2 separate regions of the Homo sapiens genome follow, and region 2 is linked to region 1. The links come from fine-mapping of genetic effects on gene expression. Tissue or cell type: whole blood. Region 1 holds a variant in brackets; the other region holds the start of a gene. All regions are shown on one strand. Distances are between the middles of the regions.

The links. PIP is the estimated chance that this variant, and not a neighbour inherited with it, causes the effect.
Region 2: it holds the start of PPP6R3, and the variant in region 1 is fine-mapped to the expression of PPP6R3 in whole blood (INTERVAL, PIP 0.92).

The regions. Positions count from the first base shown.
Region 1 is chr11:68,411,191-68,419,290 of GRCh38, forward strand. It overlaps LRP5 (LDL receptor related protein 5), which reads left to right. Exons shown (of 23, transcript NM_002335.4): 11 at 246-430; 12 at 2,499-2,822; 13 at 5,138-5,337. Among named protein-coding and RNA genes, the nearest start is that of PPP6R3, 46 kb to the right of the region's middle. RefSeq lists enhancers at 1,907-2,066, 7,009-7,932 and a silencer at 6,375-6,444. The variant T/C (reference allele first, on the strand shown) is at 3,717.
Region 2 is chr11:68,457,412-68,465,511 of GRCh38, forward strand. It overlaps PPP6R3 (protein phosphatase 6 regulatory subunit 3), which reads left to right and starts at 3,341. Exons shown (of 24, transcript NM_001164161.2): 1 at 3,341-3,416. RefSeq lists silencers at 2,752-2,901, 3,212-3,581, 3,592-3,641, 3,692-3,801 and an enhancer at 3,012-3,071.

The DNA of each region.
Region 1 (8,100 bases):
TATTTACTCGCCTTACGAGTGAGCCACTGTGGGAATTCAGGGAGGTGGCGCAGTGACCACCCCTGGAGGGATATGTGTGTGGCAGGGGTCGAGGGTCTCGCCCTTCCCTGCTTCCTGCGCGTGGCTTTCTCCAGGACGGGGAGGGCTGAGCTGAAGAGGTGGGGACAGTTGCGTCCCCCCGCCACCCACTGTCCTGCGGTGAGAGCAGACTCACTGAGCCTGCCCTTCTCCCTTGTGCCTTCCAGCTACATCTACTGGACCGAGTGGGGCGGCAAGCCGAGGATCGTGCGGGCCTTCATGGACGGGACCAACTGCATGACGCTGGTGGACAAGGTGGGCCGGGCCAACGACCTCACCATTGACTACGCTGACCAGCGCCTCTACTGGACCGACCTGGACACCAACATGATCGAGTCGTCCAACATGCTGGGTGAGGGCCGGGCTGGGGCCTTCTGGTCATGGAGGGCGGGGCAGCCGGGCGTTGGCCACCTCCCAGCCTCGCCGCACATACCCTGTGGCCTGCAAGTTCCCCAACCTGGCAGGAGCTGTGGCCACACCCACGACTGCCCAGCAGCCTCACCCTCTGCTGTGGGAGTTGTCCCCGTCCACCCCTGGGTGCCTTTGCTGCAGTTATGTCGGGAGAGGCTCTGGTGACAGCTGTTTCCTGTGCACCTGCTGGGCACTAGGTCCCAGCTAATCCCTGTGCCAGGACTCTAATTTCACCCTAACACACATGGTGGTTTTCATTGCTGGGGAAGCTGAGGCCTGAGCACATGACTTGCCTTAGGTCACATAGCTGGTGAGTTCAGGATCCCCCAGAGATACCAGGGCCAGCACTCGATCCCCACCCAGCCCTGAACCCCACCATGTGCTGGGATTGTGCTGGGAGTGTCCACACGCCCGGGACCCCAGGGCTGGTGCTCTCATCTCCTTTTTCCAGATCATGAGAATGAGGCTCAGGGAAGTTTGAAAAAAACCTATCCCAAGTCACACAGCAACAGGAGCAGGATTTGAACCCAGAAAAGGGGACCGCACACTCTGTTCTGCTAGAGTAGTTAGCTGTCCTGGGTGATATGGCAGGTGACAGGGGCAACTGTGCTTAACAAAGGAACCCCCATCCCCCCTGCCAAGTTGGGAGACTAGAAGGTCAGGGGCAGAAGCTCTGAAGGGCCAGGTGCAGTGGCTGACACCTCTAATCCCAGCACTTTGTGAGGCCAAGGCGGGCAGATGATTTGAGCCCAGGAGTTCAAGATCAGCCTGGGTAATGTAGTGAGACGCCATCTCTACAAAAAAATTTTTTAAAAATTAGCTGGGCATGGTGGTTCATGCCTGTAGTCCAAGCTACTTGGGAGGCTCAGGTGGGAGGATTGCTTGAGCCCAGGAGGTTGAGGTTGTGGTGAGCTGTGATCATGCCACTGCACTCCAGCCTGGGCAATAGAGTGAGACCGTCTCCAAAAAAAAAAAAAGAAGAAGAAAAAGAAGCTCTGAGGCTCCAAGTCCCCAGGCACCCCTTGGCTTGAGGGCAGACAAGGGAGGAGAGGGTCACCTGGGCAGCCCTGACTTTTGTCCCCTGGCAAAGGGACCTTCAGTGACCTTGGCCCTAGGAGAGCCTCTGAGCACGTCAGCCATGTCGAACCGCTCAGGAAGGGCAGCAAGAATTTGGCTTCTGACCTCTGCCTCTCCTACTCGCCATCTGCACTGGGTGTGGTTGTGCCCATTTTACAGATGAGGAGGCTGGGGCATCGACCAGCTGAATGCCTTGTCCCAGGTACTGCGTAGGCAGAGCTGGCAGTTGAACCCCGTGTCCTGGTTGTCGCTGGGGGTGGGCTGCACCCTGACTTGTGAGGCCAGTAGCAAGGTTTGCACGTGACTTCGTGACCGTCACCCAGCTCTGCAGCACATCCCGTGACCCAGCTCATCCAGGCCGCATGCAAACCTGTTGCCAGGCGAGAAACCAGTCACCGCACAGCTGTGGTTGCCTGAAATGATTAAGCTCATTAATCACCCCGGAGTGAGGACAGACTCAGATGAAAACCAGCAAAAGCCCTGGAAACTCATGTGACCCTGCCAATGAGGGCGGCCATGTGCATTGCAGCCTGGCCGTCACTCCTCGGTACGTGTTTTGGACTTAAACGCTCCGGATGTTTACTGAGTGCTTGATTAATAACATGGAAGGCCTGGTCTCATTGCTGTGGGAGTGAAGGATGCACAGCCAGGCCTGACATGATGAGAACAAGAACCTGGAGTCTCGCTGCCTGGGTGGTAATCCTGGCCCTGCCACTTAGCAACTGTGTGACTGTAGCCAGGTCACTTAATTTTGCTAGATCCTGCCTGCGCTTCAGTGGATCTTGCTGGTTTTCCAAGGTGGCCAAACACTTTAAGGCATTCATGTGGTCGCTAGGCTGCAGGGTTGAACCCTGGCTCACCCCGCAGGGCGCCGTGTGCTCTGTGGCCTGGCTGTGCCTTTGCTGACACCGTGCCCGTGTGTGTTCATGCAGGTCAGGAGCGGGTCGTGATTGCCGACGATCTCCCGCACCCGTTCGGTCTGACGCAGTACAGCGATTATATCTACTGGACAGACTGGAATCTGCACAGCATTGAGCGGGCCGACAAGACTAGCGGCCGGAACCGCACCCTCATCCAGGGCCACCTGGACTTCGTGATGGACATCCTGGTGTTCCACTCCTCCCGCCAGGATGGCCTCAATGACTGTATGCACAACAACGGGCAGTGTGGGCAGCTGTGCCTTGCCATCCCCGGCGGCCACCGCTGCGGCTGCGCCTCACACTACACCCTGGACCCCAGCAGCCGCAACTGCAGCCGTAAGTGCCTCATGGTCCCCCGCACCTCACTCCCTCGTTAGATCAGGCTGGTTCTGGGAGCTGACGCTGAAAGGAGCTTCTCATCTGGGGTTCCTGGGTGTACATAGATGGTTGGGTAGGTTGTGCACTGCACAAGCTGCATGATGCTACCTGGGGGTCCAGGTCCAGGCTGGATGGACTTGTTGCTTCATCAGGACATAGATAAATGGCCAAAACTCCTCAGCTGGAAGGTCCTGGGCAGGATCTTTGGGTGTGAAAACCAGTCACAGGGGAAGGGTGCTTGCTCATACTGCCAGCACAGTGCTGAGTGCTTTCCATAGCGCTCGTTTACTCCTCAAGCCTGGAGGGTGGGGAGTAGCATGGTCCCATTTCACGTACAAGGAACCCGATGCACAGAGAGGTGTGGCAACCCATCCAAGGCCATACAACTGGGGTGGGTTGAGCCGGGGTTGACTGTGGCAGGCTGGCTCAAGAGTCCCTGCTCCTGAACCCTTGCCAGGCAGCCTGGCATCAGCTCGGGGAATTTTTGCCCTGACCCTTGGAAGCAGGTGGGCCTCTTTGTTCTCATGTCAGTGATGAGAAGAGTGACTTTCCTATGGCCCCTCTGGAGTACAGGTGTTTCCTGTTGGCGGGCTCTTCCCCCATGACATCAGCAGCGAGCTGGTTATGATTCCCTACGCAGAACTTGATAGTTTATAAAGCTCTTTGTCATCCAGGCCCCGTTGGAGTCTCACGCAGACCTGGTCGCAGGCGGGGCTGGTCTTGCCTGTCCCAGCTGCATGGATGGGGAACTTGAGGCTTGCAAAGGTTAAGGGGCTGTTCGAGGCCCAGGCTGGCAGGAGATGGGCCTGGGCCAGAGTCTGGGACTTCCCATGCCTGGGCTGTCTTTGGTCC[T/C]GTTGCTCACCATCCCTCCCTGGGGCCATGACCTTAGAGAGCCAAATGGAGGTGCAGGTAACCCACGGCAAGGAGGGGTTGCCATGACTCAGAGTCCCCGTCCTGTGGCCGGCAGTACCTGGTGCAACGACTTGGATTTCAGACCAGCCACTGTAGCCCGCTGACGGTGCGCTCGAAGTGCCACAGCTTCTGAAGCCAGGCAGGACTCAGGCCAGGAGACTCTGTTAGCTGTTGAGAGGGAGAGGCCAACGGATGTTCTGGTTCTGCTAGAGAGCTGGTTCTTCGGATCCTGGTACCAGTGCACTGAGAGGAGGCCCAGCTTGATTCTGGGGCTGCCTTGTGGTGGCATGTGCTGCTCACTGACACCCTCGAGGAGTGTCTTCTCTCGGGCTTGTTGACTGTGCCCGGTTTTCCGCAGTTCACTGGTGCACACATAGGCACATAGCAAACCGCACACACAGTCGTGGGTATGAGTTTCACTACATTCCACCACCAGTGTTCACTACCATTACCTGCCTTCCGTCTTAAGTGTTCATCATTTAAAAATAAATTTATTGGGCTGGACACGGTGGCTCATGACTGTTATCCCAGCACTTTGGGAGGCTGAGGCGGGCAGATCACCTGAGGTCAGGAGTTCAAGACCAGCCTGGCCAATATGGTGAAACTCCATCTCTACTAAAAATACAAAATTAGCCGGGCATGGTGGGGCATGCCTATAATCCCAGCTACTTGGGAGGCTGAGAGAGGAGAATCGCTTGAACTTGGGAGGTGGAAGTTTCAAGTGAGCTCATTTTGTGCCACTGCACTCCAGCCTGGGCAACAAGAGCGAAACTCCATCTCGAATGAATGAATGAATGAATGAATGAATGGCAGGGCGTAGTGGCTCACACCTGTAATCCCAGCACTTTGGGAGGCCAAGGCGGGCGGATGACAAGGTCAGGAGATCGAGACCATCCTGGCTAACACGGTGAAACCCGTCTCTACTAAAAATACAAAAAATGAGCCAGGCGTGGTGACGGGCGCCTGTAGTCCCAGCTACTCAGGAGGCTGAGGCAGGAGAATGGCGTGAACCCGAGAGGCAGAGCTTACAGTGAGCCCAGATAGCACCACTGCAGTCCAGCGTGGGCAACAGTGCGAGACTCCATCTCAAAAAAAAAATAAATAAATAAAAGAAAAATAAATTTATGATCTATTTCAAAAATAACACATGTACTTTGAAACAGCAGAGACACATATGACACGGAGAATGAAATTCCCCATAGCGCACCCCCAAGAGACAGCCCTGGTCCCCCCGTCTTTCCCGTGGACCTCCAGCGGGGCAGATGCTGAGCCGCCTGTTGTCGAGTGGCGTGCTATCCCGTCCTCCAGCTCCTCTGTGGCTTACAGACACCCACCTGCAGCCCTGTCTTTGCCTCCTCTAGCGCCCACCACCTTCTTGCTGTTCAGCCAGAAATCTGCCATCAGTCGGATGATCCCGGACGACCAGCACAGCCCGGATCTCATCCTGCCCCTGCATGGACTGAGGAACGTCAAAGCCATCGACTATGACCCACTGGACAAGTTCATCTACTGGGTGGATGGGCGCCAGAACATCAAGCGAGCCAAGGACGACGGGACCCAGGCAGGTGCCCTGTGGGAAGGGTGCGGGGTGTGCTTCCCAAGGCGCTCCTCTTGCTGGTTTCCAGGCTGCTGCCCCTGTCCTTAGCAGAGGGAGGAAACAGAGGATGGCTCTGGGTGAATGATGACTTGGGCTTCGATTATGTAGTCACAGGGTATGACCCTGAGATGCGTGGAACCCCGAGACTGTGATTATATGTAGAAACTGGGTTTCCCCGTTGTTTAAGTAGTCATGGTGGGGTCAGACCCCACAGGACTTTTGTCTTTTCAAGAAAGAAAATGGTCGTGTGTCATGCAGGGGTAGTTGGTACTGGTTAATCCAGGTTTATCCTTTATTTTGTGGGAACTGTACAGTCATTTCTGCTACAATGCTGTATATGCTCTTCTGAAAGACACCTATGCAAAATCGCACAGTAAAAATGACACAACTCATAGGGAAAGCGGGGCCAGGGCACAGCCCTCAAAATCTCCATCAATGACATGTAAGAAAAGAGAGGAACCTGGGAAATAGCAAAGTGCCTTTTGCACATTAAATGGTTAGCTATATCCCACAATACTGTGCATTCGTAAACGTTAATGCTGCAATAAATACGGCACTTCACCTTGGGAAGATCTGGAGTTGGCTTATGAGTGTGGAAGGGTGTAGCGCATGAGTTTTTGTGAAACACTGGAAGGAGGATTGTGGGAAATCAAATGGAAAGTTCTCACCCCAGGCGTGGAGAAGAGTGGGTCATGGCCCCAGCAGTGAGCCCAGGGAGGTCAGAGACGGAGGTGTGTGTGTGGGTGTGACCCTGCGCAGTTCCCTGCCGGCTGTAGTTTTTTGCATTCACTTAATGTTTCTCGTGGAGGAAATTGTGCATGAGCAAATGTGAAACCGTGCTGTGCTCAAATTGTCCTAATACATCATTGCATTGGAACAGATTGGCTTTTTTTTTTTTTTTTTTTTTTTTTTTTTTGAGATGGAGTCTCACTCTGTCACCAGCCTGGAGTGCAGTGGCATGATCTTGGCTCACTGCAACCTTTGCCTCCTATGTTCAAGTGATTTTCCTGCCTCAGCCTCCTGAGTAACTGGGATTACAGGCATGAGCCACCGCGGCCGGCCAGATTTGCATTTTTGAAACAACTGCTAGGCTGGGCGCGGTGGCTCACACCTGTAATCCCAGCACTGTGGGAGGCCGAGGCAGGTGGATCACCTGAGGTCAGGGGTTCGAGACCAGCCTGGCCAACATGGTGAAACCCCGTCTCTACTGAATATACAAAAATCAGCTGGGTGTGGTGGCGGGTGCCTGTAATCCCAGCTACTCAGGAGGCTGAGGCAGGAGAATTGCTTGAACCCAGGAGGCAGAGGTTGCGGTGAGCCGAGATCACACCATTGCACTCCAGCCTGGGCAACAAGAGCAAAACTCCATCTCAAAAAATAAAAAATAGAAAAACAAGTGCTGTAGCGGAAGTGAGCACTTTGCGGAGTCAGGCTTGTGTGGCCTGTTCCACAAATGATGTGCTCACGGCGGCCTCAGGCCCACCTGGAGTCTGCAGCATGGGGCACAACAGGTTCATTAGTGTAGAATTCCAGGACAGGCCTGGCTCCTAAGCAGCCTTCTTTTACAAAAACTGCAGAGCCCGCTTGTATCCTAGCACTTTGGGAGGCCGAAGTGGGTGGATCACGAGGTCAGGAGTTCAAGACCAGCCTGGCCAACATGGTGAAACCCCATCTCTACTAAATATACGAAAATTAGCTGGGTGTGGTGGCACGCGCCTGTAGTCCCAGCTACTCGGGAGGCTGAGGCAGAATTGCTTGAACCTGGGAGGTGGAGGTTGCAGGGATCTGAGACCATGTCATTGCACTCCAGCCTGGGCAACAGAGCGAGACGCCATCTCAAAAAAAAAAAACCTACAGAGCCACACGGCCTCTTTCTCCACCGAGTGTTGGTGTGGGAGCTTGTGTTATTGTGGTGAAATCTTGGTACTTTCTTGAGGCAGAGAGAGGCTGAGCGCCTGGAGAGACTTTCACATGGGTCGCCATGTCCGCCGTCGGTTTCGCTGTTGTGCTCCCCATCTGAAGGCTGGTGCCGTCCAGACAGGCTGGACGCCCCTTTCCACCAGATCCTTCCTCCCGCAGCAGTTTCTAGTTACGTTGTACTGTGAGGTCTGTGTCCTTGGTTGATGGCAAAAGTCAGCCGAATTGAAATTCAGAGCCATGCCTGGCTCCCTGGAGCTTCTCTCCTGGGCAGCTGTGATCATTGCCTCTGCTGTGGTGTGGGTGGTGGAAATGGATTCCTTTCATCTTGCTTGCTACAGGTGACTGTCACGTGGAGTCCTTTGGAGAGAGGGACGTGTTAATTGATGGATGTGGCTCCCATGCTGAGAAAGCTCCTGGGCGTACATTGCCTTAGAGTTTCACTGGAGCTGCGTTCTTTTATGGTGTCTGCTAGGCAGAAGTGATGAAGACTTGGAAGAAAACCCAGAAGGTTTTCCACTTAATTTGGAAAATGTGCTTTTCCCCTCCTGTGTCTTTTGCTAAGGTCCAGCCTCCTGCAGCCTCCCCGCTCTGTGGACTCTGGCTTTGATTCTTTATTAGGAGTCCCCCTGCTCCCCCAAAAGATGGTGTCTAAATTATCATCCAATTGGCCGAGGTTTTGTTTTCTATTAATTGTTTTTATTTTTTATTGTGGTAAATATATATAACATAAAATTTGCCATTTTAATTGTTTTGTTATTGTTGTTTTTGAGACAGGGTCTCACCCCAGTGCCCAGGCTGGAGTGCAGT
Region 2 (8,100 bases), 46 kb after region 1:
TGAGCTCAGATACCTCCTCCTCCAGGAAGTCCTCCCTGACTTCAACCTTCTGGTTAGGTTAGAAGCAAACCATAAGTGGAGACCTTAGGGGCCCACTTACGTTGGGCAAGGTACTATATGATTTCATTATAATGTATATGGCCCTGTGACCCACCTCAGAGTCAGGGATGGAGGAGCCTGGTGCAGATACTGGCAAATCCTTTGATGATGAGTGAGTATAGGGATGCAAGGGTCGGTGGGGGTGTTGGGTCCTCCCTGGGCTCCCCAGCACGGAAGGACGGACGGGAGCCCAGCCCTGGCTGCCCCCTCCTGCCCATGGCCCAGCCTCCCTCTCAGGCACCAGCCAGTCCCAGGACTCTCTGAAACCTTTCCTGGGCTCCTTAGTCCAGCTCCAAGCTGCCCCTCTGGCCCTGTGCTACACCTGGTGCTCCCTGCTCTCGCTTCCAGCCATCTTCTCTAGAGTATGGCCAGCCCTTCTTCTGCCCGGAAGCTTTCCTTGGCTCCCATGGTCTGAGCATAAACCCAGGTTCCTCCGCCTGGCTTCCAAAGCCTCCATGGTCCCTTCTGCACCTGCTTCTCGAGCTGTTGCCCCAGACCTGAGATCAGCCCCACCCTGCCTTCCACGGGGTGTGCTCCTTCCACCTTGCTGCCTCGGCCTCTTTCCCTGGCATGGCCGCTCCCGCCCTGCCCAGGTGATCAGCCTGTGAATCCCCTCCCTAACCCCCACACAGAGCACACCTCCCAGGCTGGCTTCCGGCTTGACTATGTTCCTCCATGCCTCTCTGAGTAGCAGGATCAATGTGAGAAAGGTCTGCCCTGTCTGCAGCCTCCCCAGAAGCACAGTACTTTTCGTGGCGCGTACACGGGCTGGTAGATACAGTTGTCCCTCTGTATCCGTGGGAGATTGCTTCTGGGACCCCCAAGGATTCTCAAGTCCCATATATAAAATGGCTTAGTACAGTTAACAACAGAGACGTGTTCTGAGAAATGCATCGTTAGGCAATTTTGTCCTTTGCAAACATCACAGGTATACTTAGCACAAACCCAGATGGTCTAGCCTACTACACACCTGGGCTATATGGGATAGCCTATCGCTCCTAGACTACACATCCATACAGCATGTTACTGTGCTGAATACTGAAAGCAGCTGTAACACAATGGTAAATATTTGTGTATCTAAACATAGAAAAGATCCAGTACAGCTGGGCGCGGTGGCTTACGCCTGTAATCCCAGCACTTTGGGAGGCTAAGGTGGGTGGATCACCTGAGGTCAGGAGTTCAAGACCAGCCTGGTCAACATGGTGAAACCCCCATCTCTACTAAAAATACAAAAATTAGTGGGACATGGTGGCATGCACCTGTAATTACAGCTACTGGGGAGGCTGAGGCAGGGAGAATTGCTTGAACCCAGGAGGCAGAGGTTGCAGTGAGCTGAGATCGCCCCATTGTACTCCAGCCTGGGCGACAGAGCAAGACTCCATCTCAAAAAAAAAAAAAAAAAAAGTCCAGTACAACTACAATATCATAATCTTATGAGACCAGTCTTTTTTGTTTTTATTTATTTATTTATTTTTTGAGACAGAGTTTCGCTCTGTCGTCGAGTCTAGAGTTCAGTGGTGCAATCTCGGCTCACTGCAAGCTCCGCCTTCCGGGTTCACGCCATTCTCCTGCCTCAGCCTCCTGAGTAGCTGGGACTACAGGCGCCCGCCACTGCGCCCGGCTATTTTTTTTTTCTTTTTGTATTTTTAGTAGAGACGGGGTTTCACCGTGTTAGCCAGGATGGTCTCGATCTCCTGACCTCGTGATCCACCCGCCTCCGCCTCCCAAAGTGCTGGGATTACAGGCGTGACCGCGCCGTGACCTCCTGTGGATTTTCATGGGACTCTGAGAGGCGCCTCAAATCCATTTTGGAATAAGGCAGGTTATTAGCATGGGGTCTAACCGTGGGCTGTCTCGGTGTCCTGGGCTGGCTCTTGGGGCGGGGGTCCTGATGTCCGGGACCTCGGTCCTACCTGGGAGGCACAGATATGGCGGGGAACGGGAAGCCCGGGGGAGCATTTAGAAGCTCGTGTGCACAGGGAAACCCTGTCTCTACAAAAAAATTAAATTAGCGGGGCCCAGTGGTGCGTGCCTATGGTCCCAGCTACTCGGGAGGCTGAGGTGGGGGGACTGCTTGAGCCCAGGAGGTGGAGGCTGCAGTGAGTCATGATCACCCCACTGCACTCCAGCCTGGACAACAGAGCAAGACCTTGTCTCAAAAAAGACCCCAGGCCAGGCGCGGTGGCTCACCCCTATAACCCCTGCACTTTGGGAGGCTGAGGTGGGCGGATCACCTGAGGTCAGGAGTTCGAGACCAGCCTGGCCAACATGGTGAAACACCCGTCTCTTCTAAAAATACAAAAATTAGCCGGGCATGGTGGCGTGCACTTGTAATCCCAGCTACACGGGAGGCTGAGACAGAACTGCTTGAACCTGGGAGGCGGAGGTTGCAATGAGCTGAGGTCGCACCACTGCACTCCAGCCTGGGGGACAACAGGGAAACTCCGTCTCAAACAAAACCAAACCCCAAAAGTTCTCGTCTAAGTCCTTCTCCCAGGACAAGGGCACTTATCTCTTGGCGGTGCGTCACAGGTAGGGATATTCCGCGATCCCTCACCTTGACCCCGCTACGAGGACAGCCACCTCTTTCAGGTAAAGAGATCGCAATGGGAAATCATTCTGATAAAAATTCCCCTGTGGAGAATGCAGGCATCGATCCCGTTACCTCTCACATACTAAACGAACGCTCCTCCACTTAAGCTGATTCCCTAGCCCGGCCTAACCTTTGCAGCCGGCGCATATTGTGGCTCACGTCACCACCGGTGTCCCCCGCCGCCCCCGCCCCGCCCGGCCAGCTCGCCACCCTATTGGATCCCTCACGGCTCCGGCTCCACGGCCATGATGGGCTTGGCTCAATTTAGTTTTAAAAAGCATTGGCCACTCGGATTGGTGGTCCGAAGCGTCCGTCAAGCGGAGGACCTGCTGTTGCTACGGCGTAGGGGGTCCCAGCCAGGTTTCTCCCCGTTTCTGATTTGTTTCTCAGGCTCCGGGGTCCTAGAGGTTCCGGATCCGTCAAGTCCATGGGAAAAGAATGCGCCCCTCGCGCTTGACTGACGAGGCTTGCGGGCCAATCGGAATGTAGTCAAAGGAGCCGCTAGGCGATCCAATAGGTAGTAGGGGGCGGGAGAGAGGGGCCAATGAGCCTGGAGCTGGGGGCGGGGGCAGGGCCGCGATTGGCTGAGAGGCGGCCAGAGGGCGGGCGGGGGGGAACTCAAGGCCTGCTTGATACGTCCGCCATTTTGGGCGCTTCGCTGATGGTGTCGGTGAGCGCGTTTCCCGCCTGAGCGCAACTAGCGGCGGGTCGTGGGCACCTCCAGGTAATGGGGGTAGGGGAGGCGCCGGAGCAGGCCGCGGCGCGGGGTGTGCGAGGCGCGCGGGCAGGCGCGGGGCCCCTCCACCTGGCCTCAGCGGCTCAGGGAGGGAACGTCCCGGCCCCTCTCCCCTCCCCCCCCGGAATTCGTCGCTCCGCGGGCCCGGGAGGCGCGGCGCCGAGTCCTTCCCGGCCGCTCCCCGTCCGCTCCTGTTAGCCGGGGGCCCCGCCAGGACGGGCGCCGGGAGCGGGACGCGGTCGGGGCGGCGACTTTGTGCCTCGTTGACGTTCGCGGCCTGGCGCGGCGGGCGGGCGAGGCGCGCCCCTGACCCGGCTCTGGCTCCAGCCTTCCCGCCCGCCGGCCGCGGCCCGCAGTCTCGCCCCCCGCCCGGCCCGCGCCCGGTCTCCGCTCCCGCTGGGCCTCCCGGGGGCCTCGGGGAGCGCGTCAAGTTGAGGCAGCAACTCGCCGTCAAGAGTCGCGAAGACCATTGTTGGACTCTGCTCTTCGGGAAACAAGTTTTGTGGGTTTCTGTTAATTCGCCGCAGAGTCATCGGGATCCACACCAGCCAGTTCCGAGGCTCCCAGTACCCTTCCCAGTGGCTTTTTAACTCCTGTGAGGTGGCTTGTATGTAAACTGTCTCGAATGCCTCCCTGGTGTATTTGAGCCGGGGGTGGGGGGGGTGGGTGGTCCTTCTTGTGGCTTGAAGTCCCTCCCTCTTAAAGAAGCCCATTCACTGTTTACTTGGAGGTGTTTCCTGTTGAGGTCCTGCTGGCTGTGATCACAATTTAGACTTTTTAATTATAGGTGAACGGGATGGGTCTTTGGATGTACCTCCGTGCCCTGACGTTTCAACCGCGTGACTTAATGTCATTTTCCTGGTACTTCACGTTTTCTCTGTGGGGCTTTGGGTCTGTTTTGCTTTTATGGGAGGGGGTGCTTGACAGGCGTTCCCTTTCATCCTCGCAGCACTTGTTGACGGGGTGGTGTCCTTTATTCGTGGGACGTTTACTTTGATTTTGTCCTCAAGGTCATGTTGCAGATAGGCTTCAAGGGGGACAGGGACTCCAGGTTTCCAACCACCGAACTGTGCCTCAAGTAGCAAGTGTATGAGACCCAGTTATGGTGGTGGTTGGGTTTTCCTCACTGTGGAGTGGAGTCAGTGACCACTTTTTAGCTCTGTGACCTTGGGCAAGTTACCCAGCTTCTCTTTTTTTTTCTCTGTAGTATGGGAATAATAATAAGTGTCCCAGCCATAAGTTTGTCAGGATAATTGCCCTAATACATGTAAAACAGCTAGAGCTGTGCCTGGCACATACAGTCACCTCAGTGGCTGATTAGTGGTTAGGCTAGTTAATGGCTATTATTGTTTAATTTAAATTTGATTTTTAAATGTTTAGGTACTATTGGGAAGTCAGATGAGCATTTGAGTCCCGACTCTTGGTGACTGCCTTTAGAAAGCTCTGTGTAAGACTCAGTTGGGCTGAAAAAGTAAAACTATAAGTTATTTTAATTTTTTCAGGACAGGGTTTTTGACCATTCCTTAAATTAGGAACATTTACCGGAGTAATTAATGAGTAGTAGCGCCTCATAATGTTTAAAGAGATGGTTAAATACAGAAAAGCCCATCACAAGCTTAAGTCGGGCTTTGTTCCTCATGTGCTTTTGGATACTAGTTTCTGGGTGACTGCCACCCGAATCAGTAACTAGGGTTTCTTAGTGTAAGTCCTCCTTGTTACTGAAAACTGTAAGGGTGCCGTGGATTGCAGTATTCTTCAGCAAAGATAGTTTGGGAAATAGCTTTTGTCCTGGAGGGATACTTTGGAAGGTATTCTCCACTTCAGCATGTCTGGTCAGGGAGTCTAGAACATTGAACAAAATGCCTGCACTCAGTCAGAAATAAACTCACAATCCTTTACCGCTTGCCCGATACTCTCCTCCATGGTGCTCGAAACCTTGCGTGCACCTTCCCCTGGTATTGTTGTGTTTACTTGGGACTTGGTTTGCTGTATTGGAGATGTGTGTTTTGATGGACTCAGTCTTAAGTAGAGATGAGTATCTTGCTGGTGGAACTTAAGGACAGGAAGAAGATTGTTTTCGGTTTAGAACTCTAGCCTTTGTGTAAAGTATAGCAAAGCAAAGTCAACAAGCAAAAAGTTGTTAGTTTCAATGAACTAATTGAGAATTTGAGAATCAGACCATAGCTGAGCAGAAAATGAATAGAAGTAACATTGACAGGATGAGGTTGCCTAGCTTTTTAAGATAAAGCTTTGGCCGGGCGCAGTGGCTCACGCCTGTAATCCCAGCACTTTGGGAGGCCGAGGCTGGCGGATCACTTAAGGTCAGGAGTTCGAGACCAGGCCAACATGTGAAACCTTGTCTCTATTAAAAATACAAAAATTAGTCGGTCATGGTGGCGTGTGACTGTAATCCCAGTTATTTGGGAGGCTGAGGCAGGAGAATCGCTTAAACCTGGGAGGCGGAGGTTGCAGTGAGCCAAGTCCAGCCTAGGAGACAGAGCGAGACTCAGTCTCAGAAAAAAAAAAAAAAAAAAAAAAGATAGGGCTTTGCACCTATTTGGTAGATTATGTGCTTGTTACAAATAAACATCTCTTTAAAACAAGTGTCACGATCGGTATTTTATTTCTATGACAACTTCCATTGTCTAGTTCTATATTTTCAGTATTTGAGAGGCAGCCTCTGTGTGTGTTTGTGTGTGTGTGTGTTTTGGTCTAAAATTTTACAGTATTTTACTAAATAAGAGTAAATGATAGTGAAAATAAAGCTCTTCTATCTGCTCAACTAAAACTCAGCATTGACTTGGTCCTTAGAAGTTATGGTCTGCACCCCAGTATTGGCTGCTACTTTTTCTAATGTACTGAAAAAAAGATCTGGCCTCTTGGCTTTAAACAGCTTTCATATTTCTTTCCTTTCTTAACTTCAAATGATTGTCTTTTGATTTACTCTAGTTCAAGAGTTCTCAGTTGGGGGTGGTTCCCCCCTCACCCCCCAGGAAACATTTGGCAGTGTCTGGACATATTTTTGCTTGTTACACCTCTGGGAGTGGGCAGTGTGCTTCTGGAGGGTAGAGGCCAAGGATACTGCTAAACATCCTACAGTGTCCAGCATAGCCTCCTCCCTGCCCGCCAGCAAAAGTATCCAGTCCCAAATAGCAACACTGCTGAGGTTGAGAAATCCTGCACTTAGATAGATGTGAGACTGGCCTACATTAGAATAAGCCTGCATTAGAATAATTAGAAATTTTTTAAGACCATGGATGTTGGACTCCACCTCTGGAAATGGTGGGATTGAGAATCTTATTAATTTTTTTTGAGATGAGTCTAGCTCTGTCGCCCAGGCTGGAGTGTGGTGGTGCCATCTCGGCTCACTGCAACCTCTGCCTCCTGGGTTCAAGCAGTTCTCTGCCTCAGCCTCCCTAGTGGCGGGGATTACAGGCACCCGCCACCATGCCCGGCTGTTTTTTGTATTTTTAGTAGAGATGGAGTTTCACATCTTGGCCAGGGTGGTCTTGAACTCCTGACCTCGTGATCTACCCGCCTCGGCCTCCCAAAGTGCTGGGATTACAGGTGTGAGCTACCATGCCCGGCCACGAGAATCTATTTTTTAGAAGCTTCTCAGACAATACTGAAATGCAGCTGAATTTTGGAACCACTGTTTTACACCACAGGTTTAGGGACTGTTTGTGAGTTAAGGGTTCCTTTCGGTGATCTGTGAACTTGGTCTTTGCAGTACCTAGATCCTGCCTTGGAGATTATTTAGTAGTGGGGATTATTTAGATGGTATACTTAACCATTTTTCAGATGCCTGAAGACTGAACTTTAGAAGCATTTGTTAATTGATTTTATAAAATATCTTAGGACTTTTTTTTCTTAACCTCATGAAAATACATTACCATACTGTGCTGAAACTAAGCAAAATTCTTAGATATTTAGAGTTTGCTTCTGTGCTGAATAATCTTACACTACTGTAATTTTTGAGTTAGTATCTTTTGCCCTCCTTTTGTCAGTCAGTGGTCAGGTCTGGTTTTAGATGCCAGCTTCAACTTTTTTTTTTTTTTTTCGGAGACAGTCTCACTATGTCACCCAGGCTGGAGTGCAGTGGCATGATCTTGGCTCACTGCAACCTCCGCCTCCTGGGTTCAAGTGATTCTCCTGCCTTAGCCTCCTGAGTAGCTAGGATTACAGGTGCGTGCCACCACACCTGGCTCATTTTTGTATTTTTAGTAGAGATGGGGTTTCACCATGTGGGCCAGGCTGGTCCCGATCTCCTGACCTCAAGTGATCCGCCCGCCTCGGCCTCCCAAAGTGCTGGGATTACAGGCGTGAGCCACCATGCCTGTTTTTTGTTTTTGTTTTTGTTTTAATAAAGACCTATTCCCAGAGAATTAGCCCTGGATCAGTTTACCAGTTCTGCCCATTGAGGGCACAGATAGGCATACAGTATGCTCAGCCTTTAACACAGTGATCCTGCCCACTGGTAAGTTGGACTCTTCTGTGCCCTAGACTCTGATCCCAGCAGAGAAGTGTTCTTTTCTCCTGGGGAGATGAGATGCAGTGGTAGAGAGAAGGGTAGATCTTTTTTGCTCATATTAAAATTTAGATTATCTAGTTTATGGAATGGAAGAATATTAGGAAAACTATAAATTTTTAGCAGCTAAATGTTAATATCTGA